Homo sapiens: one gene and its partners. The protein of the gene in region 1 purifies or fractionates together with the protein of each later gene. This does not show direct contact. Each region holds a gene or a part of one and is shown in the gene's direction. Other genes may lie near its edges.

Region 1 (4,807 bases):
GTCCAGAACCGTTTCCATGGAGATGCTCAGGTGGCTCTGCTCGGCCTAGGTAGGGGCCTGCTCAGGATTTGTGAAGTAAGTCTCTCTTGGGATGGGAGATTGTGGTCCTAGTTGTGAACCTCCATCCTTCCATCTTTGTTTCCAGCTTCGGTGATCAAGAACACACCGCTGTACTTTGCTGACAAACTTCATCAAGCCCTCCAGGTGAGAGGGGCACTCCTTTCCCTCCCCAGAACAGAAACTGGGGAGGAGAGAGGAAGTCTCAGCTTGCTGCTTATGTAACCATCCTATATACACCGTCTAAACCTCAAGCCGCTCTCCTTCCCAGGGCTTACACACCAGGGCTTACACAGGGGTGGAGGAATGAGCTGTGGTGAGAACTAACTTAGTTGGCTCCCAGGGGCCCTGAAACTAACATTTTGGCCTTGTTAATGTCTAGGTGGCCAAATAGAGATATGAATCTGCTCTGTAAGACAGTGCCTTGTGCAGGCTTAGTTGTTGCCAGAGTGATGGTGATAACACTAGCAAGAATAATGACAAGGGCTGGCATTTTGCAGGTGCTGATTGTGTGCCACAGCCTATCCTGAGCAGGGCACACATATTTCAATTAATCCTCACAACCATATCCATCCGTATCTTATAGATGAAAAAACTGAAGCCCAGAGAAGTTAAGTACCTTGCTTGAGGTCACGTAGCTAGTAAGTTATACAGTCTCCCTACACAACACTTCACGATGTAAGATATTGACCATCCTTGTCAGCTATACGATAAGTGCTCTTAGCACCCAAGGCCCCCTTTCTCCACGCTGGTCAGATTTTGTTCCACATTATCCATACTTTTTTTTTTTTTTTTGAGATGGAGTTTCACTCTTGTTGCCCAGGCTGGAGGCTGGAGTGCAGTGGCACAATCTCGGCTCATGGCAACCTCCGCCTCCTGGATTCAAGCGATTTTCCTGCCTCAGCCTCCCAAATAGCTGGGATTACAGGCGCCCGCCACCACATTATCCTAATTTTTTGTATTTTTAGCAGATGCGGTTTCACCATGTTGGTCAGGCTGGTCTCAAACTCCTGACCTCAGGTCATCAACCTGTCTCGGCCTCCCGAAGTGCTAGGATTACAGGCGTGAGCCACTGCGCCCAGCCCATATTATCCGTACTTAAACTGCTGACTGTGGCTTGAGTGCTTCCACCAATAGAATCCAGTTATTCTGTTGATTGAATTAGGTCTCCTATTAGTAGAACTGTCCCCCAAAATCTATAAATAAAAAGTTCAGGAAGGGCGCAGTGGCTCACGCCTATAATCCCAGCACTTTGGGAGGCCAAGGTGGATGGATCACTTGAGGTCAGGAGTTCGAGACCAGCCTGGCCAACGTGGTGAAACCCTGTCTCTACTAAAAATACAAAAATTAGCCAGGCATGGTGGCAGGCACCTGTAATTCCAGCTACTTGGGAGTCTGAGGCAGGAGAATTGCTTGAACCTGGGAGGCGGAGGTTGTAGTGAACCAAGATCACGCCACTGCACTCCAGCCTGGGTGACACAGTCAGACTAAAAAAGTAGTTATCATTTTGGCAGATGGAATAGCTTTCTGTAGACTGGTTGAGAAGCCATCATGCCATGTTGATGATTGCCCAAAAGTTAGTAAATATAAGCAATTGTTCTGTCATCTAGAGATTTCTATCTTGACAGTAGATTATTATACTTGCCCAATAAAGCCTGTATGATTATAATGAGTCAACACTAAGATTCATTTGAAGAGTTGTACTTATCTGTCCAAATTCCTGTCATAAATACAAACTATCCCAGCAGTAGATGATTTTGTAGTGTATTTGGATTACAAGACCCACACTCTTGAGTGTAGATAAAAGATTTATCTTAGAAGTAGTAGTCAGGGGCCAAGCATGGTGGCTCACACCTGTAATCCTAGCACTTTGGGAAGCTAAGGTGGGAGGATCGCTTGAGGTCAGGAGTTCAAGACCAACTTAGGCGACATAGCAAGAACTCGTCTCTACAAAAATAAGAAGAAAATTTGCCAGGCATGGTGGCACCTGCCTCTAGTCCCAACTACTCAGGAGGATGTGGTGGGAGGATTGCTTGAGCCCATGAATTAGAAGTTACAGTGAGCTGTGATTACTCCACTGCACTTCAGCCTGGGTAACAGAGCAAGACCCTGTCTCAAAAAAAGAAAAAAAGAAGTGGTAGTCAGAAAATAACATAGGCCCATTTTTCTGAAAAAAAAAATTTTTTTTTTGAGATAGAGTCTGGCTCTGTTGCCTAGGCTGGAGTGCAGTGGCGTGATCTCAGCTCACTGCAGCCTTCACCTTCTGGGTTCAAGTGATTCTCTGGCCTCTGTGTCTTAAGTAGCTGGGATTACAGGCGTAGGCCACCATATCTGGCTAATTCTGAATTGTTTCTAAAAAGGAAAAACTCGGGCTGGGCGCTGTGGCGCATGCCTGTAATCCCAGGACTTTGGTAGGCTGAGGCGGGTGGATTATTTGAGGCCAGGAGTTCAAGACCAGCCTGGCCAACATGGTGAAACCCCATCTCTACTAAAAATACAAAAATTAGCCAGGGGGTAGTGGTGAGCGCCTGTAATCTCAGCTACTTGGGAGGCTGAAGCAGGAGAATCTCGAGCCTGGGAAGCAGAGGTTGCGGTCAGCCGAGGTGACGCCACTGCGCTCCAGTCTGGGTGACAAAGTGAGACCTGCCTCAAAAAAAATAAATAAACAGGCCAGGCGCGGTGGCTCATGCCTGTAATCTCAGCACTTTGGGAGGCCAAGGCGGGCGGATCACGAGGTCAGGAGATCGAGACCATCCTGGCTAACAAGGTAAAACCCTGTCTCTACTGAAAATACAGAAATTAGCCAGGCGTGGTAGCGGGCGCCTGTAGTCCCAGCTACGCTGGAGGCTAAGGCAGGAGAATGGCTTGAACCCAGGAGGCGGAGCTTGCAGTGAGCCGAGATCGCGCCACTGCACTCCAGCCTGGGCAACAGAGTGATGCTCCATCTCTAAAAAAAAAATAATAATAATAAATAAATAAACAAATATAAAATAAATAAATAAGGAAAAAATCATGATACATCTGTATTATTCTTTTTATTTATTTTTATTTTTATTTTTTTAGATCGAGTCTCACTCTGTCGACCAGGCTGGAGTGCAGTGGCGCGATCTCGGCTCATTGCAACCTCCGCCTCCCGAGTTCAAGCGATTCTTCTGCCTCAGCCTCCCGAGTAGCTGGGATTACAGGCGCTCACCACCATGCCTGGCTAATTTTTGTGTTTTTAGTAGAGACGGAGTTTCACCATGTTGGTCAGGCTGGTCCTTAACTCCTGATCTCGTGATCCACACGCCTCAGCCTCCCAAAGTGCTGGGATTACAGGCCTGAGCCAAGGTGCCCGGCCTTCTTCTTCTTCTTTTTTTTTCCTTTGAGATGGAGTCTCACTCTGTCGCTAGGCTGGAGTGCAGTGGCACGATCTTGGCTCACTGCAACCTCCACCTCCTGGGTTCAAGCAATTCTCCTGCCTCACCCTCCCAAGTAGCTGGAACTATAGTTGCCCGCCACCACATCCGGCTAATTTTTTTGTTTTTAGTAGAAACAGGGTTTCACCACGTTGGCCACGCTGGTGGCAAACTTTTTTTTTTTTCTTTTTTAAGATGGAGGCTTGCTCTGTCACCCAGGCTGGAGTGCAATGGCGCGATCTTGGCTCACTGCAACCTCTGCCTCCTGGGTTCCAGCAATTCTCCTGCCTCAGCCTCCTGAGTAGCTGAGATTACAGGCGCCCGCCACCACGCCCGGCTAATTTTTGTATTTTTAGTAGAGACAGGGTTTCACCATGTTGACCAGGCTGGTCTCAAACTCCTGGCCTCAGGTGATCCACCAGCCTCAGTCTTCCAAAGTGCTGGGATTACAGGCGTGAGCCACCGTGTCCAGCCTGTATTATTCTTTTATGAGAGATATGTAGATATATGAAAACATAAATTGTGAAGAATATTTATTCAGAAAAACAACCTTCAGAAAATCAGCAATGGCTGATTCAGGACAAATTTCCACCAATCTGTAGTAAAAATTAATGTTCCTGGTGAAGATCCTAGGGCCATATGCAATGCCAGGTATACGATTAAGTATTATAATTAGGCCAGGCATGGTGGCTCATGCCTGTAATCCCAGCACTTTGGGAGGCCAAGGCAGGTGAATCACCCGAGGTCAGGAGTTCGAGACCAGACTGACCAACATGGTGAAACCCCGTCTCTACTAAATATACAAAATTAGCTAGGTGTGGTGGTGTGCACCTGTATTTCCAGCTACTTGGGAGGCTGAGATAGGAGAATTGCTTGAACCTGGGAGGCAGAGGTTACAGTGACCTGAGATCGCACCACTGCACCCCAGCCTGGGTAACAGAGTGAGACTCCATCTAAACAAACAAACCATATATATATATGCTGAAGCGAGCAGATCACTTGAGGTCAGGAGTTTGAGACCAGCCTGGCCAACATGGTAAAACCCCACCTGTACTAAAAATAAAAAAATTAGCTGGGCGTTTGGCACATGCTATAGTCCCAGCTGCTTGGGAGGCTGAGGCAGGAGACTTGCTTGAACCTGGGAGGCGGAGGTTGCAGTGAGCTGAATTCACGCCACTGCATTCCACTCTGGGTGACAGAGCAAGAAAAAAGAATACTTGTACAACAATGAGAGTATTCAGTTAATGAGTGACTCTTGCCCAATTCTGTAACTTTAGAGTAACAAGCGTTGGAAGAAGAGAAGAATGGATACTGGGGAGCAATTGGCAATCTTTATGACAATACAAAACTAA
Region 2 (5,586 bases), on another chromosome or scaffold:
CTTTGGTGGGAGGCTGAGGCGGACAAGTCACTTGAGCTCAGGAGTTCGAGACCAGCCTAGGCAACATGGAAAAACCCAGTCTCTACAAATGTACCCCCTCCAAAAAAAAAAAAAAAGCCCGGTCCTGTGGTGTGTGCCTGTAGTCCTGGCTGCTCAGGAGGCTGAGGTGGGACGATCACTTGTGCTCAGGTGGTCAAGGCTGCAGTGAGTGCAGTGAGAGGTGATGGTAACAGTGTACTCCTACCTGAGTGACAGAGTGAGACCCTGTCTCAAACAAAACAAGACAAAAAACTGCTACAATATAAGCAACAATATAGATGATTTTCACCGACTAATATTGAGCAAAGCAAACCAGAAACAGAGTACATATTGTGATTTTCCACTAAAATGAAATTCCAGAAAAGGTCAAATTAATCTCCAGCAAAAGAGGATGAAATAATGGTTAACTTTTACAGGTGGGAGGGGTAATGTACTGGAAGAGGACAGTAGGGAGATTTTTAAAGTTTTGAAAGTATTCTATATTTTTATAATCATATATATTTACCTATTATTATTATTTGAGACATAGTCTCATCCTGTTGCTCAGGCTGGAGTGCAGTGGCGCCATCTCGGCTCACTGCAACCTCTGCCTCCTGGGTTCAAGCGATTCTCATGTCTCGGCCTCCCGAGTACCTGGGATTACAGGCGCACCTCCACCACCACGCCCAGCTAATTTTTTTTTTGTATTTTTAGTAGAGAAGGGGTTTCACCATGTTGGCCAGGCTGGTCTCAAACTCCTGACTTCAAGTGATCTGCCTGCCTCGGCTTCCCAAAGTGCTGGGATTACAGGCGTGAGCCACCGCTCCTGGCCTATAATCATACATTTAAAAGCCACATACGGAAGAATTTTCTAGGACAATGTCAACTCTCCATTAAAAAACTTTTCACACCCCAACCACATAAATATGTAAAAATTTGAGTTTTACCCTTATGATTTGTGCATTTTACTGTCTATAAATTACATCTTGATAAAAATGTAAATAAAAACAAATAAAAATGAATGTTCCTTGAATGAGTGAATAAACGAATGAATGAGTTGTGTTTTCAAAGAGGAAAATAAAGACATTACCGTGAAAGAGGATCTTGTACTGCATTGAATTTTTAAGTAGTGCTTAGTTCTTGCACTTTCTTTGCTCTAATGATGCCCAAAATAATTGTTCGTTTACTTACTTTGCTTAAGTATTAATTTCCTTTGCTATTTAGCCACGACTGTGAAGTTAAGACAAGAAAGTCATCAACAGTAATGCAGATGATGTAAATACCTTGTGGGACTGGCATTTAATTTACTGCGAGGGATCTATTAAGCTCTTGGGGAATTGGGGAATATGCCTAATTCCCTTCTGGCGTTTTTAATTTTTTTAATCCTTTTGTGTTTTATGAGATGTGAGTACAAATTAATTATTCAGACTCTTGAGAGAGGAGACGAGTTGGCGGAGTTGCCACCCGTGTTCACGAACAGGAACAGAAGCCACCAGCACATGACATTGCCCAAGCCACCCAGAGATCAGAGTGGAAGAGTCCTAATTGCTGGGCGGCCCAGCCCCGGGATGTGCCTCTCCCATCCTTCTCCAGGCGGGGCTCGTGGCTAAGCAGCGACTCACCCTGCCAGCCTGTCACAGGCCAAGAGCGGCCAACAACTCCGCAGGCGACAATGGCCGCTGCACCCCAGGCGCTGTGGAAGCCCGACCCGGCTCTGGGTCCCATCTTAGAGCCTGGGATGCAGTGTCGGGAGTCGCGGTGCCCAGAGCATCCAGTAGGTGTCGCTGTCCCACGGCCGCCGCGCGCCCCCGGGGTGGGGAGCCGGGGCGTGTCTGCCTCACCTGGGGCTCCCGGCGCGAGCGCCTCACCTGGGCTAGCGCCCCTTGCCGCCCGCGCCGCGCGGGGGCGCTCTTCCGCGGCTGGGTCCCCGCCTCCGCCCCAACAGCTCGGGCTGCAGTGCTGCTCGCGCTGCGCTGGGTGCTGGTTCTGCAACCCGCGGCCGTCCCCCCGCATCCGCGACGAGGGGGCGGGGTCCCACGGCGCGCTGAGAAAGGCGGGCGAGCTGGCGCTCAGGTGTGTTCTTCCATAGGGCCCGGGCGGCAGAGAGGACCGCGTCCCGGCAGTCGGAGCGGGAGGAGGACAAGACGATGCCGCTGTCCCCGCCAGCCCAGGGCGACCCCGGGGAGCCCAGCCCGTGCAGGCCCCCTAAGAAGCACACCACCTTCCACCTCTGGCGCTCCAAAAAGAAGCAGCAGCCGGCGCCGCCTGACTGTGGGGTGTTCGTTCCGCACCCGCTCCCGGCGCCTGCCGGAGAGGCCAGGTGAGCTCCTCGCCCGAGCCCTCCAGTCCCACCTCCTCCTCCTCCTCCTTCTCCTGCTGCGCTAGCCCTTGGACTCCTGACCCCACTTGGAGGAGGGGAAAGCCCCGGGGTCTGTTTCAGTCCGCAGGAGGGTACCCGGGTCCGGAGGGGAGCGATCGTAGCCGCTGGGGTTGACGAGGTTCCTCGCGGCTTTTGGTTCAGACCAAGCACCGGCGAGAGGAACTTGTGCCCACGCATGTGGCCTTTAGTATGACTGCAAAGTTTTCATGCAGGAGCCTCCCGCATCAGCCTGCTAACCAGAGCGGCGGGGAGTGAGGGTTGTTACCGTCCTAAATGATGGCGGGAACTCTGCTTTGGGGTTAGGCACTGCTTTTGAGCTAGTGTCTTTATTGTAAAGCTCTTTATTGTGAATATCTGTAAGATCTGTGCTCTTACAGATGTTATACCCCCATTCTCCTCGCAACATACGAAGGGAGGAGGAAGTGGCAGGAATGGTTACCCCCATTTCATGGGTGGAGGAACTGAGACCAAAGGATAAATGGCTTCTCCCCATTGGAGCCAGTGGCAGAGCTAGAGAGCACCTAGTTATCAAAACTGTAGTTACCATTGTGCTTTTTGATTTTTATCATGGTTTTGAAGTGGTTTTATTCTATATGTATAATTATTCAACTATAGCATCAGAGTTTATGCATTCGTTGAATAATAATCAATTTGAAGTAACAGCGTATTTACATGGCTCAGAGGTGTGAAATATTTATAGTGATGGACAATTGACAATGTCCAGTAAATCCTTCCAAATGTGTTTTTAAAATACACCCTATGAGGGCCAGAATAAAATTGTGCAAAATTTGCATTTTAGACATGGTTTTCCTTTTATTTCTTTCTTTCTTTTTTTTTTTTTTTTTCTGAGACGGAGTCTTGCTCTGTCACCCAGGCTGGAGTGCACTGGCCCAATCCCGGCTCACTGCAAGCTCCACCTCCCGGGTTCACGCCATTCTCCTGCCTCAGCCCCCGAGTAGCTGGGACCACAGGCGCCCGCCACCACGCCCGGCTAATTTTTTGTATTTTTAGTAGAAACGGGGTTTCACCGTGTTAGACAGGATGGTCTCGATCTCCTGACCTCATGATCCGCCCGCCTCGGCCTCCCAAAGTGCTGGGATTACAGGCATGAGCCACCGCGCCCGGCCTCTCCTTTTATTTGTAAAAAAAGTCAATTTTACGATCTATTTTCATTCACTTATTGTATTGAGTACCTTAGCTAAGTGCCATGTACTGCGATATAAAAAACAATGAGAGACAGGAATAATTGTGTCATCAAAGAATTGTTAGTCTCTTGTGGATACCAAAAAATGCAATGATAGATGCCAGCACACAGGAGGGGATCAGGGAGGCTTCCTGGAGGAGGATAGGTGAAGTGGCTTAGGCAGAAACAGGGAGGAGCAGCGAGTTCCAGGCAGGGGCTGCACTGTGCACATCACCAGCACTTAGAAGAGCGTGGCACTTCCTGAGAAGCGCAAGTGGTTGCAGCGGGGAGGTCTAGGTGTGAGTGGGTAAGGGTAGGAAACCTAAGAAAGAAGTCATTTTATTTTTCTCTCATATTTTATCATCCACATTGGTAATCAGTTGTAGTAGAAATATATTACCTATTCAAACGTTTACTGTGCCTAATTATAGATTATACTTTCTAACAAAATACAGTATTTAATGTACCCAACATTGAAGTTCTTTTCTATTACCTCAGTAAATATTTTAAACATTTCCATCGTGGTTTTCCTTTTAAGATCTAGTCTTATCATTTACTGTCTATCAAAACATAATAATACACAGCTATAGGTAATTTATTCAAATGTAAATACATTTTAGTATAAAATTTAAAATAGGAGGCCGGGCGCGGTGGCTCACGCCTGTAATCCCAGCACTTTGGGAGGCCGAGACGGGCGGATCACGAGGTCAGGAGATCGAGACCATCCTGGCTAACACGGTGAAACCCCGTCTCTACTAAAAATACAAAAATTAGCCGGGCATGGTGGCGCGCGCCTGTAGTCCCAGCTACACGGGAGGCTGAGGCAGGAGAATGGCGTGAACCCGGGAGGCGGAGCTTGCAGTGAGTCGAGATCGCGCCACTGCACTCCAGCCTGGGCGACAGAGCGAAACTCCGTCTCAAAAAAAAAAAAAAAAAAAAAAAATTAAAATAGGAGATTTGCTTCTCTCCTTGAGTTTTTTTATATTTTAGTGCAGTCTTGAAACACTTCATTTTTTCCTTCAGAACCGTGATGAACTTCGTATTAATAAATGTTCTGAAAAACTAAACGTACTAGTCTGTCTTTGGGATGTTTTTCTAGTTAGATCATCTTTATAAATATTTCATTTACTTCTAAGAGAGTGTACTTCTTTCTGGTTTAAAGAGAGTGGCAAAAGCACCCTTAGATTTCAAGCCAGTTTGCCCAGTGTGGCTCTCTTAAGCCTCCTGACCATATCCCTTCATTTCTGTCCAGGACTTGGAAGTGATGGAATTTGGCTGGAATGTGCAGCACTCACTGTGGTTTTTGTCTCTAAATAAGGAGGGGACAGTCAGGTAGCCACCCATATTTGCTTATTTGATTAATATTATGGGTGTTTAGGTCAGAAAAAAATGAATTTATCTACTAGCTTTGTGACCTTGGGCAAGTTATTTCACCTCTTAAAATCTCAATTTCCTCATCTGTAATATGGAGACAATAGGATGCTGACTCTGTAGGGTTGTCATGAATATTAAATGAAAGTTTATGTTATTAAGTGCAAAAACCTTAACACACTTCTGAGCACAAAGTAGAAACTCAGTAAATGCAAAAGCATCCTGGTCATCATCATCATCATCATCATCATCAAAGCAAAGGTCTAATGGAAGAAATGGAAAAGATAGGTTTGGATAGGGGAAAACCAACTCTAGGAAGATCTTTTCCTAGAAAAGTTTACCAGTCCAGCCGGGTGCGGTCACTCACGCCTCTAATCCCAGTACTTTGGGAGGCCAAAGCAGGTGGATCACCTGAGGTCAGGAGTTTGAGACCAGCTTGGCCAACATAGTGAAACCTCATCTTTACTAAAAGTACAAAAAAATTAGCTGGGCATGGTGGCTCACACCTGTAATCCCAGCTACTCAGGAGGCTGAGACAGGAGAATCCCTTGAACCCAGGAGATGAAGGTTGTGGTGAGCCAAGATCATGCCATCGCACTCTAGCCTGGGCAACAAGAGTGAAACTCCATCTCAA
Region 3 (4,807 bases), on another chromosome or scaffold:
ATGTGTCTCCAATTCCAAACCTGAAAGGAGAACATGATGGTTTATGAGACTTCAATCCAGTCTGGAAGCAGACTCACTGTTCTAGAAGCAAAGGCACAAATGAATAGGATAGAGACTGCTACAATTTGAATGTTTGTCCCCTCCAAAACTCATGTTGAAACTTAATCCCAATGTAACAGCCTTAAGAGGTGGGGCCTTTAAGAGGTGATTGGGCCATGGGGGCTCTACTCTCCTGATGGATTAATGGATTAACAGATTAATGGATTAATAGGTTATCACAGAAGTGGGTGAGTTATCATGTCAGTGAGTCTATCATAAAAACCATTTTGGCTCTCAGTGTGCCCCTTCTTGTCCTGTCATGCCTTCTGCCATGTTATGACACAGCACAAGGCCCTCACCAGAAGCTGACTAGATGCAGCTGCCTGATCTTGGACTTCCTAACCTCTAGAATTGTGAGCAAAATAAACCTCTTTCCTTTATAAATTTCCCAGTCTCAGGTATTCTGTTAAAGCAACAGAAAATGGGCTAAGACAGAGGGGAAAGACAAGAAGATGAAAGAAAGGAAAAAAAAAAAGCACACATAGCACACCTTGCTGATAAATAAGGATGATGATCAAAAACCCTCATGAAATGAGAAGATTGGAAAGAAATCCATAATGTACCTGGAAGTACTAGACCCAATCCGAGATTCACCTGTTCATCAGAACAGGCCTTTTTTGCATATTACTATGTTCCAGGCACTGTTTTGGGGTTATAGCAGTGCTTGTGACAGCAAGGCTTCTGCTTTCAAGGAGTTTCTAGGGACAGGGAGGGAGCCAGATTTTTTTTAATTTTAGTAAAAACAAAAAATAAGAAAACATCAGGAATATTTATTTGAAATAAAACAGTGAGATAAGATAGAGATTGAGCAAGAATTATAATGATGGTCAAGGGATGTCTCTCTGTAAAGGTCAAATTTTCAGGACAGACCTCAAATTGATGAGTGGTGTGTATGCTGAGAGAAGACGCAGACTTGAGACATTCAAAGCAGACAGGACATCAAGAGCAAAGGCCCTGAGGCTTCAGCAAATTTAGTATATTGGATGTAACAGCAGGAGGGCCCATGTGGGTAAGCTGAGGACATCAAGGTGAGAATATCAAGGTGGGTAGGGACCAGATCAGGTAAGATCTTGTGAGCCCTTGTAAGGACCTTTAATTTATGCAAAGAGCAATAGAACATGATATAATATCTAAGAGTGATGAGGATATAAAAGAAACAAGACTAGCCACATACAAGTTGATAATTGTTGGAGACAGTGGTGGGCTCATGATAAAAATCTCCACTTTTAGGCTGGGCACAGTGGCTCACGCCTGTAATCCCAACACTTTGGGAGGCCAAGGCGAGTGGATCACCTGAGGTCGGGAGTTCGAGACCAGCCTGGCCAACATGGCGAAACCCCGTCTCTACTAAAAATACAAAAATTAGCCAGGCGTGGTGGCAGGTGCTTGTAATCCCAGCTACTTGGGAGGGTGAGGCAGGAAAATCACTTGAACCTGGGAGGCAGAGGTTGCAGTGAGCCAAGATCATGCCATTGCACTCCAGCCTGGGCAACAAGAGCAGGACTCCATCTCAAAAAAAAAAAAAAAAAAACTCCACTTTTGTATATCTTTACATTTTCCACTGGATATAGCCTCGACTGTACTCACCAGGTTCTCCACACCCTAAGCCACATGCCAGATTTGTTTAGCAGATTCAGTGGAGCAGGTTCATTCATGGGGGCACCAAACCAAAAGTCCTTTTAAAAACAGTTACCTATGATTTAAAAGTGTGAAGTGATTGTAGTATGATGGGGAAACAGTGGGCCAACTATCATGAGAATTAGGAGATCTGGACAGCTACATGATCTCTTTGATCATATAGTTTTCTTACTTGCTCAGTGCAGCAGTAGTGCCAACCTGTCCTCAGACGGGGATGTAATAATTAAAAGAGGTAGCAGGGGAAAATTCTACAAACCATGGAGGGTTGTGCAAATGTAAGGAATTATTATTTTTTTTTATTTTTATTTATTTATTTTGAGACGGAGTCTCACTCTGTCACCAGGCTGAAGTGCAGTGGCACGATCTCGGCTTACTGCAACCTCTGCCTCCCAGGTTCAAGTGATTCTCCTGCCTCAGTCTCCCGAGTAGCTGGGACTACAGGCATGCGCCACCACACCCAGCTAATTTTTGTATTTTTAGTAGAGATGGGGTTTCACCATGTTGGCCAGGATAGTCTTGATCTCCTGACCTCATGATCCGCCTGCCTCAGCCTCCCAAAGTGCTGGGATTATAGGCATGAGCCACTGTGCCTGGCCAGGAATTGTTATTATCTTGGATGTCTTTCTATTACAATTACCACTACTACTGCAAAAATCCTAATTGCTAATAAAGTATTTTTAGGTTTTTAAAGGATTTCATAGAGTATGATTGCTGGACTGAGCACAGAGGTAATAATTGGTAGAGCAGCAGTTAAGAAGATTGCTCTACCACAGAATTAAAAGAATGTCTTCGCATAGTCCAAGAACTCCAGCTGAATTTTGAAACTCCAAAAGCTCAAGGAACACCAGCTTCACATTTGCCTGCGGGAGGGGTGTGTGCACACATTTTGATTTCCAGCCCTGGAAGTGGAGAATGGTTTATTAAGTGTTTCTCCAGGACATCCCTTCCAAAGGGTTGACAGCATGTTTGAGCAACTACCTTGGAAACACTTAAAACCTACTGAAATGTAGGGGAGTACAATTATTTCTGAACTATGGGCCAGAGTGAGAAAGTTTGCCCAAGTCTCATGATTATGTTCCAGTTCTCTGCTCTTCAAAACACTCTGCTAAGGTGACCACACTTGTTTTTCTCTCTCAGGCCATTCTGTCATTTAGTTGCATAACCTCAGTTCTATTCTTTCAATAATATACATAGTTCACAGTGCCTTCGGGGTAGTTTCCGTATCAAGGTTTTGGTTTCTTCTGATACAAAACACACACACACACACACACACACCCCTTCCAATCCTAGAGGAAAAGAGTATACTAAGTAGAGTTAATAAAGAAGCGTTAGATCCCAGACCATTCAGATTTAGCTGGTGGGACTGTGAGGAGTGTGATCATACAGAAATGAACCTCTCACAGGTGGTTAAGTATGCTGGAGTTGGAGGCACAGCCTGTGTTTGAATATCAGCTCTACCACTTCTTACATGCTGTGTGAGTTTAGACAGGTCACTTAATTAAGCTAAACTTCCTCATTTGTGAAATGGAAATAATAATAGTAACTGCTTTGTGGAACTGATGAGAAGATTACATCTATGAGAAGCACTTAGCACAGTTTCCAGGACAAAGTGAGTGTTCAAAAAATGTTAAGGAGTTACCGTTGTGGTTATAGGTTGGTGGGAAGCAATGTAAATTATTTTATTACAATGTCTCTCACCTGACTTCTCTTTGGCTAACTCAGTGGCTCTCAACTTGGGGTGATTTTCTGCCCCTATGGCAGAAAATGTGCCTTTTTCAGTTGTCACAGCTGGGGAATGTTACTGGCATCCGGTGGGTAAAGGCTAGGGATGCTGCTAGACATTCTACAATGCACAGGACAACCCCCACAACAAAGAATTATCTAGCCCAAAATGTCAACAATGCTGAGGTTGAGAAGCCCTAGAAACTAAAACAGTGTGGGGTTTGTAATTTATTGAAACCATGTAACAACTTTAGTTATTCAAAGACACATTTACCTGGGATATAAAAACTCTAAAATGTACTTCAATTGTGGAAAGAGGCATCAATGATTAACCATAATCATTTCTGATCATGACCAAGTCACCCCTGAGACTAGTAACTGCAGGTGCTCACAAAAAAATATGCAGCTGTCCTTCCTGCCTTCAGGGGATCATTCATGAAAGTAATTTCTCACCTGACCAAAATGATCGCTTAACATTTATTGCATCATTGCCCCTGTTTCTGTAGACTACTCTACCGAAGTTTTAATTTGTCACTAGTTTAAAGGGCCAAAAGATCTGTTTTCTTCAGATATTAGAGACACAAACCAAGCATCTCCCACTTTCTTGGAATTCCTTCTCAAAAATGACTAAAGTCTGAGACTGTTTTCTTATTTAATGTCTATTGAATTCTGTTTTACAGAATTTCAAAAGAGCAGGTTCTTAGCTTACTTTTCAATGGAACATTTTAGCCAGGTAGTATAAGTACAGGTGCGGGTAACCTCAGATAAATCAAGGTGTTATGCAGCTGTCTCTATATTAAAAATATTTGCTGACATCAGTGTAGACTTCATCTTGTAGTTCTTCAGTGTTTTCTTTCCTTATCTTTTGCTCATAAGATGGCTTTGTGTTTGGTTTGATATTATACTGAGAAAGCATATTAGAATCAAAGCACCAAGATTTCAAAAGTCCAGACTACTCTTCCCAAAGAGAAATGTGCAATCACAATAGCATGACATGGGTACAAATATAGAAGTATGTTATTAAAGTATTGAGAATTAGCTTTCCTAACCTCCCCACCTGCAATCTTTTACTCCTAATCTCCAAAAAATGAACAAATCATTGGCTCAAAATGGTCACAAATTGTATGTGGTGTTAAAAATCTATTATTTTTATTGTATATAAAATGTTGCCAGGTGTGGTGGCTCATGCCTGTAATCCCAGCACTTTGGGAGGCCAAGGCAGGTGGATCACTAGGTCAGGAGTTCAAGACCAGCCTGGCCAACATGGTGAAACCCCATCTCTACTAAAAATACAAAGATTAGCTGGGTGTGGTGGCGTGTGCCTGTAATCCCAGCTTCTCGGGAGGCT
Region 4 (4,807 bases), about 130 Mb from region 1:
TTCAAGTGATCCTTCTGCCTCAGTCTCCCGAGTAGCTGAGACCACAGGTGCAGCCACCAGGCTCAGCTAATTTTTTGTAGAGATGGGGTCTTGCCATGTTGCCCAGGGTTGTCTCAAACTCCTGGCCTCAAGCAATCCTCCCGCCTCACCCTCCCAAAGTGCTGGGATTATAGGTGTGAGCCACCGTGCCCGGACTGGATAAATAATTAGACCTCTTAGTTCCTCATTTTCCTCATCTGTCACATGGGATAATTATGGTGCCCACGCCCAGGCATGTCATGAGGATGAATGGAGTTAATGTTTATAAAGAGTTTAGGGCAGGACCTGGATGTGAAGTTCATTCACACTGGGCCATCTTTTCCTCCAGAACCAGAGGGGTCAGGACTGACCTGGGCACATTTATGGATCCAACTCAGGCCACTGTGAGTGCTTCTCTGTGTCCACCTGCCTTGGCCCAGTACTCACAGGGACACCCCCAAGGTCATGTCCATGTTCTCGTTCACCTCCGGCCTCTGTCTTGCTGTGTGACCTTAGACAAGTGCACCCCCTCCTTGAGCCTCCAGCCCCTCCTCCAGTCAGCAGGCACCCTGACCTCGGTCCTGTCCGCCTCCAAGCACAAAACATGCTTGGGCCAGGGGACTTGGTGAGCAGTCTGCCCCACAGGGCTCAGAGCCGAGCCAGCAGGGGCAGCTGTTGACTGTCACAGCTGTGCGTCTCTCGCCTCTCCTCACTTGCAGGATGAGATGGAGCTGGGCTACGTTCAGGCGCCGCACAAGACCCTCCCGGTGGTCTTTGACTCCCCAAGGAATGGGGAACTGCAGGATTTCCCTTACAAAAGAATCCTGGTGAGTGGTCCCGGCCGCAGCCCACCCCTGAGAGCTGAGAGGCCTTACCCCAGGGGCCACACCGGGGTGTGGGGTACAGAGGGCAGCAGTGGGAACCGTGCTCTTTAGGGATGAGGGTAGGGTTGCCAGATAAAATGCAGGGATGCCCAGTCAAATGTGAATTTCAGACAAGCAACAGGTTAACTTTTTGGTGTAAGTACGTCCCAAATATTGCATGGGATATACTTACACTAAAAAAGTTGTCGTTTATCTAAAATTCAAAGTTAATTGGGCATCCTGTATTTTTATTTACTGAATCTGGCAGCCCTAAATAGGGGAGGCAGGATGGTGCACCTGTTCAGAGCACAAGCTTTAGGGTCAGACCAACCCTGTTCCGTTACTTACATGCTGTGTGATGTTGCGTGAGTTACTACCGCTCTCTGAGCCTCAGTTTCCTCATCAGTAAAAATGACATTTTGGCCCTGGCCTCACAGGGGTTTGTGAAGCATCTCATCATCACAGTACCTGCATGGAGGGAGTGTGTGTGCGCGCACCACTATTAGCTAGTATCATTATTTTAAGAAAAAGGATAACAGGGAAGGTGATGATTGCTAACGAGGACCTCTTGAGAAAACAAGAGTGACTTGCCTGGTGCCGTAAAGAACAAGAGACCCCTCCAACCCCCTCACTGATCACACAGATGCTAGGAGCTCTCTCTCCTGACCCTTGATGTTGTCGAAGTTGCTTCTGAGAGATAGCCCTGGGGAGGTCTCCCCTTCTCTAGAGTTCAAAGACAGAGGCCCAGAGGGCCATCAGCAGCCTCTTGGTTCCCACAATTGGCCACTTGAGCTGCTACTTGCCCTTGGGCTGAACTTGCAGGAAGGCTGTGTAGGTAAGGGGATGGAGTGGCCATGGCCTCAGGCTCCATGTCCGATGGGGAGTGCAGGAGCAACCGGAGCGCCCCCTGCTGTCTTGCCGTGATAAGGCAGCAGGGCCAGAGAGTCCGAGCACTTCCCGACTTTGCCTGCTATGCGTGCATGAAATATTGACTGGGTCAGATCCCCCACCCACCGCCAATGACTCTGTATTTCCACCTGAAGAATGGATGGCCTTTCCCACCCTGTCTTGAAGGAGCTCAAAGCCCAGCAAGTTGGTTCAGGCCCTTCCTGGTACCCTCCACCCCCGCCTGACTTGGTTTCCCTCTCCAGGGTCCAGATTTTGGTTACGTGACTCGGGAACCACGCGACAGGTCTGTGAGTGGCCTGGACTCCTTTGGGAACCTGGAGGTCAGCCCTCCAGTGGTGGCCAATGGGAAAGAGTACCCCCTGGGGAGGATCCTCATTGGGGGCAACCTGCCTGGGTGAGAGAGAGACAGGGAATGGAGTTCCTGGGGTGGAGGCTGAGGGTTGGGGGTGGTGATGATGGTGGAGCAGGGGCCATTGCACTCCTTGAAGAGAGCCAGAAGCAAGGAATGATGAAATTATACTCCCGGATGTGCTGGGGTTGGTGGGTGTTCACCAGACACAGTCCACACTTACCTCGGGGACTCTGAAACCAGAGAGAGCAGAGACCTAAGAGATCATTCAGTCCAACACTTTCATTTTACAAGTGGGCCCAGAGAGGGTAAGTGAGTCACATAGAAAGCAAAGTTATAACTAGACTCAAGTTTTCTGATTCTGAAAATAAATAGATGATACTAGTAACAGTCAATTAATAGTAACAGAAGAAGAGTGGGCATGGTGGTTCATGCCGTAATCCCAGCACTTTGGGAGGCCAAGGCAGGCGGATCATGAGATCAGGAGATCGAGACCATCCTGGCTAACATGGTGAAACTCCGTCTCTACTAAAAAAAAAAAAAAAATTAGCCAGGCGTGGTGGCAGGCGCCTGTAGTCCCAGCTACTCAGGAGGCTGAGGCAGGAGAATGGCATGAACCCAGGAGGTGGAGCTTGCAGTGAGCTGAGATCATGCCACTGCACTCCAGCCTGGGCGACAGAGCGAGACTCCGTCTCAAAAAAAAAAAAAAAAAAAAAAAGTAACAAAGAAAAAGTTTCCATTCCCAACAGTCCTGGGAGAAAATGCATTTAGGTCAAAGCTTGTTCATACTACCATGTAAATGACTAATATAAGATCTTTTCCTGAGAGCAAGAGAAGTGAGGTACAAGACATGCTAAGTGAAATGACAATAACATACAGAGAGAGTAACAAATGATGTGTTGTTCAGTAGTGACACAGGGGTGCTGATGGAAAAGGAATCCTATCATATTGGTTACTTGCTGTGGACTAGACCAAGACATTGAGCTAACCAAATGCAACAAAGCTGTTAGAACAGACTTGGGATCAAATAATGAATGAATCCAGAGTCAAGCTTTGGAAGGGACTACTGCCCTCAAATACATAATCCCATTGAAAGAGGAAGCTGGACCATGCCCTTAGATACATTTTCGTAAAAATTGAACATGGGGGTGAAATCTGTCTCTTGGAGAATAAGAACCTGGTGTGAGGGTGGTTCTGAAGATTTTCCTGGATGGTGGGACCTGGTAGGTCATTGCCCTGGTGTGACTGACCTGTCCTGAGTCTGCCTCATGCAGAACTCACCCTAAGTGGAATTTTAAAATATACGTATCTGGCTGGGTGCAGTGGCTCATCCCTGTAATCCCAGCACTTTGTGAGGCTGAGGCGGGCAGATCACTTGAGGTCAGGAGTTCGAGACCAGCCTGGCCAACATGGTGAAACCCCATCTCTAGTAAAAATACAGAAAAATTAGCCTGGCCTGGTGGTGCACGCCTGTAATCCCAGTTGCTTGGGAGGCTGAGGCAGGAGAATCCCTTGAACCTGGGAGGCGGAAGTTGCAATGAGGCGAGATCACGCCACTGCACTCCAGCCTGAGTGACAGAGTGAGATTCCATCTCAAAAATAAATAAATAAATAAAATGAAATATACATATTTATTACTTTCCTGTTTATAAAAGTAATGCATGTTTTTTTGTTTTTTAAAAATCAGATATTGCAGGAATGCTAAACTCTTGTCATTTTATTTCTGCATGGAGTCTTTTTAGTTAAGCAACTTTTTTTTTAACCTCGTGGGTCCCAGGTCAAGTGGCCGCAGGGTCACCCAGGTGGTGCGGGACTTCCTCCATGCCCAGAAGGTGCAGCCCCCCGTGGAGCTCTTTGTGGACTGGTTGGCCGTGGGCCATGTGGATGAGTTTCTGAGCTTTGTCCCTGCCCCCGATGGGAAGGTAAGAACTTCGTGCATGACGTGTCTTTCCCTGGCATCTGGGGCAAGAACTGAGCTCCAGGGCGCCATGCCAAGGCAGGAGGCTCAGCTGAATCTGTTCTCTGCACGCAGGGCTTCCGGATGCTCCTGGCCAGCCCTGGGGCCTGCTTCAAGCTCTTCCAGGAAAAGCAGAAGTGTGGCCACGGGAGGGCCCTCCTGTTCCAGGGGGTTGTTGGTGGGTAACAGTGCCGTGTCCCTCCTTGCGGCTTGCCTGCCCCTTACCCAAATTAAGACACATCATGGCTTGAGAGGGGGAGGGCAAGTTTTAAAGCAGGGGTGTGTCCCCAAATTCAGGGCTTCTCACTCCTGCCCCTGCACACCTTGCTTCACCAGACACCACTGCCCACAGCTGGGGCCGAGCTGAGGTGGGAAGCGGGGTGATAGAAGGTGGACATGGACTGAGCGGGGACATAGTGGCTTCCCAGGCAGGTGACCAGTGCAGTCACGGCGTGGAGCTTTAATGTTCTGCAGTCACTATCCTGAAATCTCCCTTTTTTTTTTTTCCTTTTTGAGACGGAGTTTCACTCTTGTTGCCCAGGCTGGAGTGCAATGGCGTGATCTCCACTCACCGCAACCTCCGCCTCCCAAGTTCAAGCGATTCTCCTGCCTCAGCCTCCTGAGTAGCTGGGATTACAGGCATGCGCCACCACGCCCGGCTAATTTTGTGTTTTTAGTAGAGACGGGGGTTTCTCCATGTTGGTCAGGCTG
Region 5 (3,500 bases), on another chromosome or scaffold:
TAGAAGGGGTCGTGGGGAATGATGGAAGGCCTTTGAGAGGGGTGGGGAGGGCTGGAAATCCAGGCCTTCTTCGCTGTGACTCCCAAGGGTCTCCAAGCTGACACGGCTGCTTGGGGGGTTGGAAGATAATTACCCCAAGCTTCAGCATCATGCAATATACCTACATAACAAACTTGCACATGAACCCCCCAAATCTAAAATAAAAGTTGAAAAACAAAAAATATATATATATATATTTTTAAATTTTTTTATTATACTTTAAGTTCTGGGGTACATGTGCAGAACGTGCAGGTTTGTTACATAGGTATACATGTGCCATGGTGGTTTGCTGCACCCATCAACCCATCATCTACATTAGGTATTTTTCCTAATGCTATCCCTCCCCTAGCCCCCGACCCCCACAGGCCCCGGTATGTGATGTTCTCTCATAACTTACCACTAACATAGGCATTAGAAAGTTAAAGAAAAAAACAGTCATCGTAGCTAACATCTAGCATGCACTTAGTGAACACTAGCCTGTTCTGCAGTAACTTAGGAGAAACAGAAGAAGCCCTCATGTTTGACTCCAGTTTTGATTTTTTTAAAGGACTTTTGCCTGTTGGGCACTAATCTTTGGTTTCTGTGGTTTGAAATTGGTGTGTAAATAGCATAAGGGGACATGCGCTCTTCTGAGCTTGAGCAGCTGGTCACATTCTTATCTGCCACTTGTGTTCCCACTTCATCTGGCCCAGTAGCTCACAAAGGGCCACTGGAGTGATCAGTGAAGGGGGGTGCCTGGGCGGCTGGCCTGATGGGGAGGCTCCTCCTGCAGATGCCACGTTAATAAGTGCTGCGTCCTGCTACGGCACTGGGGATCCAGGAGGTGAGTCCGAAACCACATTGGCCATGCCCTGCTGGATATAGTGCACACAGGGCATCCAGGGCAAGACAGCCAGGGAGGAGAAGGGCCTGGGCTCGGCCTCTCCAGCCCCTCCATGAGCTCACCTGCTTACTCATCCAACCCCATGGAAAGCGATGCATCTGGCACTGCCAGGAAGATAAAAAAAGAAGGAAAATCCTGCCTTCGGTGTCTAATGCGGGAGACAGAGTCCCCAGTAACTGTACTGTGAGAGAATGTGGCCTCAGCCATTAGAGATGGGCCCAGCGAAGGGATTCAGGAGTTCAACAGAAGGAGGCTCCCACCCAGATCCAGAAAGGCTGCATGGGGGTTTTGGGGAGCCTAGAACTGGGGAGGAAGTTCTGGGTAGAGGGACTAAGGGTAGAGGTCCCCTAAGTGCAGGAGCCAGGTGGGAAAGTGACCAGCTATTTCAGATTGCATTGGCTCTGCCTCTATCTCAGACCCTTCCCCAGTCTGTCACTGTCCCTCCTCCCCAGCTCAGCTTGCAGAGGGATGACCCTAAAGCACAAGTCTCACCTTATCACTTCCTGACTGCTGCATCCAGGACAAAGTCTAAATGTCTTAGCATGAACTCCAAGACTCTTCCCGCTCTAACCTGGCCACCCACCCCTCTTTGTCTCCCTCCCCTCTAGCCAAGCCAGCATCCTCCCACACCCCCAGACATCCAGGCTCTCCTCTGCCTCCAGGTGTGACTGGGCTGGTCCCACCATCTGGGCAAGCAGTTATTCAACCTTCAAAGTCAATGCAAATGGCACCTCCTCCCAGAAGCCCTCCGACCTCCTCCCCAGGCAGAGCCATTGCTCCCTCCCTATAGCTGATCACATTTTTGACAATCTCTCCTTGAGTGCTTACCTGATTTCCATGGGCTTTGTTTTTCTCTCCCGAGAGAGTGTGGACATTTGTGTATTGATCTTTGGATGCTAGAGACCAGCACGGTGCCTGACAGGGCCTGCCAGTGTAGGGGACAAAGGTTTATTACACGATGGTTTCGGGGGCATACAGCAAATGGAAGGTAAATGAAACACTGAGATACATGACAAAGCCCTGGCTCATCAGAGCCCAGTGAGGGGCCCAAAGGACTGGAGCTGATTGGAGGATTGAGAGAGGCTTGCACCCTGCGGGAGCTACAGAAAAAGTCTGGTTCGAGTAGTCTTTTTTAAGTTTAAGTTTATTGACAGTTGAGTAGTTGGTGTGAATGAGTGGGGTAGAAGACCTAGAAGATTAGTTGAGCCAATAAAGAGAATAAGGGAAATTAATATAAGGGATCAGGTTCGTCCTAAAAGACACTGCAGATTTTAGCTAGGCCAGAAGTGGGGGGCTGGTTTTATTCAGTTTGCCAAATCTGAGCAATGAGGAGTGGCTACCTAAGCCCTAGGAGGAGCAGCATCCTCAGGCCGAGGGCCACATGGGCAGGGCTGCACACTCCGTGTTTGCCAACCGTGGAATGGATGGGAAGAGGGCTGGATGGCTCTGCAGGTGCCAGGGACCACGGCTGCCATCTTCCCCCTCTTCCCCCAGGGAGAGGAACCCAGTCCTCCACTTGCTTCCATGGCCTGCTGTGTGCTGACTTCTCTGAAGTCTCAAAATAAATAAATAAATAAATAATAAATAAAATAAAATGATGAATTAGTGGTTTGCATCCTCCCTCCTGGCCTATTGGATGTGGCCTGTGAAAATACAAATGTGGCAGTTTGTTCTCGAATGCTTTCCTTCCAGCAATTGCCAAAAGCAGAGAGTGCATGTGTCCAGCACTTGGACAGGTGATTTGCGGTGTGGCTGAAAGAGCCCTGGGTTGCAGTGGTAGAATCGGGAGATCTAGATTTGAACTCCATCTTACATGGATCTCACTCTTGGTGAGAGCGTGGGCAGATGAGCTCCCTTGGGTGCAGTGTGGGAATGAAATCAACACCGTCTGCCTCACTTGGCTCCGGTCCGCTGCCTCACCTGCCCAGCAAGCACTGCCCACTGATCCCCAGCCCACCTTGCAATTTGCTCCCAAGTGCAGCCCTTGCCTCAATCCGTGTGGGTGAGCGTAGGGGGAGGGTACAGCCCGTTTGATGAGGAGCCCAAGGTGAGGTCTGGGAGTCTTGGGTCCTGGCAGACAAGGAGATGGGATGAGGCATTTCTCTGATACCTTGCCTTCCTTTAAAAAAAAAAAAGAGGCCAGGAGCAGTGGCTCACGCCTGTAATCCCTGCCCTTTGGGAGGCTGAAGTGGGTGGACCACCTGAGGTCAAGAGTTCGAGACCAGCCTGGCCAACATGGAGAAACCCTGTCTCTACTAAAAATACAAAAATTAGCCAGGCGTGGTGGCAGGTGCCTGTAATCCCAGCTACTCCGGAGGCTGAGGCAGAAAAATCACTTAAACCTGGGAGGTAGAGGTTGCAGTGAGCCAAGATCAAGCCACTGCACTCCAGCCTAGGAGACAAAAGCAAGACTCCATCTCAAAAAAAAAAAAAAAAAAAAAAAAGAAAGAAAAAAAGATATTTTCCCAGCCAAAGGGACTAGAAAATGGCAAGTTTTTCTTCTGATCTTGAAAAAATAAATAAGCCCTCTGCTTGTTTCATCTTTCAAAAACAGTAGCATTTGACCATTGATGAGGGC

Evidence for each region.
Region 2: the proteins of ANXA9 (region 1) and CRYBG1 purify together in Homo sapiens (affinity purification with mass spectrometry; one large-scale study listed by BioGRID and IntAct). This does not show direct contact.
Region 3: the proteins of ANXA9 (region 1) and ACP3 purify together in Homo sapiens (affinity purification with mass spectrometry; one large-scale study listed by BioGRID and IntAct). This does not show direct contact.
Region 4: the proteins of ANXA9 (region 1) and PADI3 purify together in Homo sapiens (affinity purification with mass spectrometry; one large-scale study listed by BioGRID and IntAct). This does not show direct contact.
Region 5: the proteins of ANXA9 (region 1) and CLMN purify together in Homo sapiens (affinity purification with mass spectrometry; one large-scale study listed by BioGRID and IntAct). This does not show direct contact.

Annotation. Positions count from the first base shown.
Region 1 is NC_000001.11:150,988,138-150,992,944, forward strand, and holds part of ANXA9 (annexin A9), read left to right. Parts: coding exon 1-49; intron 50-145; coding exon 146-204; intron 205-4,807. UniProt on the Homo sapiens protein: Low affinity receptor for acetylcholine known to be targeted by disease-causing pemphigus vulgaris antibodies in keratinocytes.
Region 2 is NC_000006.12:106,358,744-106,364,329, forward strand, and holds the start of CRYBG1 (beta/gamma crystallin domain-containing protein 1), read left to right. Parts: upstream 1-1,973; 5' UTR 1,974-2,165; coding exon 2,166-2,338; intron 2,339-5,586. UniProt on the Homo sapiens protein: May function as suppressor of malignant melanoma. It may exert its effects through interactions with the cytoskeleton.
Region 3 is NC_000003.12:132,322,608-132,327,414, forward strand, and holds part of ACP3 (prostatic acid phosphatase isoform PAP precursor), read left to right. Parts: intron 1-4,807. UniProt on the Homo sapiens protein: A non-specific tyrosine phosphatase that dephosphorylates a diverse number of substrates under acidic conditions (pH 4-6) including alkyl, aryl, and acyl orthophosphate monoesters and phosphorylated proteins.
Region 4 is NC_000001.11:17,272,603-17,277,409, forward strand, and holds part of PADI3 (protein-arginine deiminase type-3), read left to right. Parts: intron 1-737; coding exon 738-845; intron 846-2,032; coding exon 2,033-2,184; intron 2,185-3,916; coding exon 3,917-4,061; intron 4,062-4,171; coding exon 4,172-4,274; intron 4,275-4,807. UniProt on the Homo sapiens protein: Catalyzes the deimination of arginine residues of proteins.
Region 5 is NC_000014.9:95,197,909-95,201,408, reverse strand, and holds part of CLMN (calmin), read left to right. Parts: intron 1-3,500.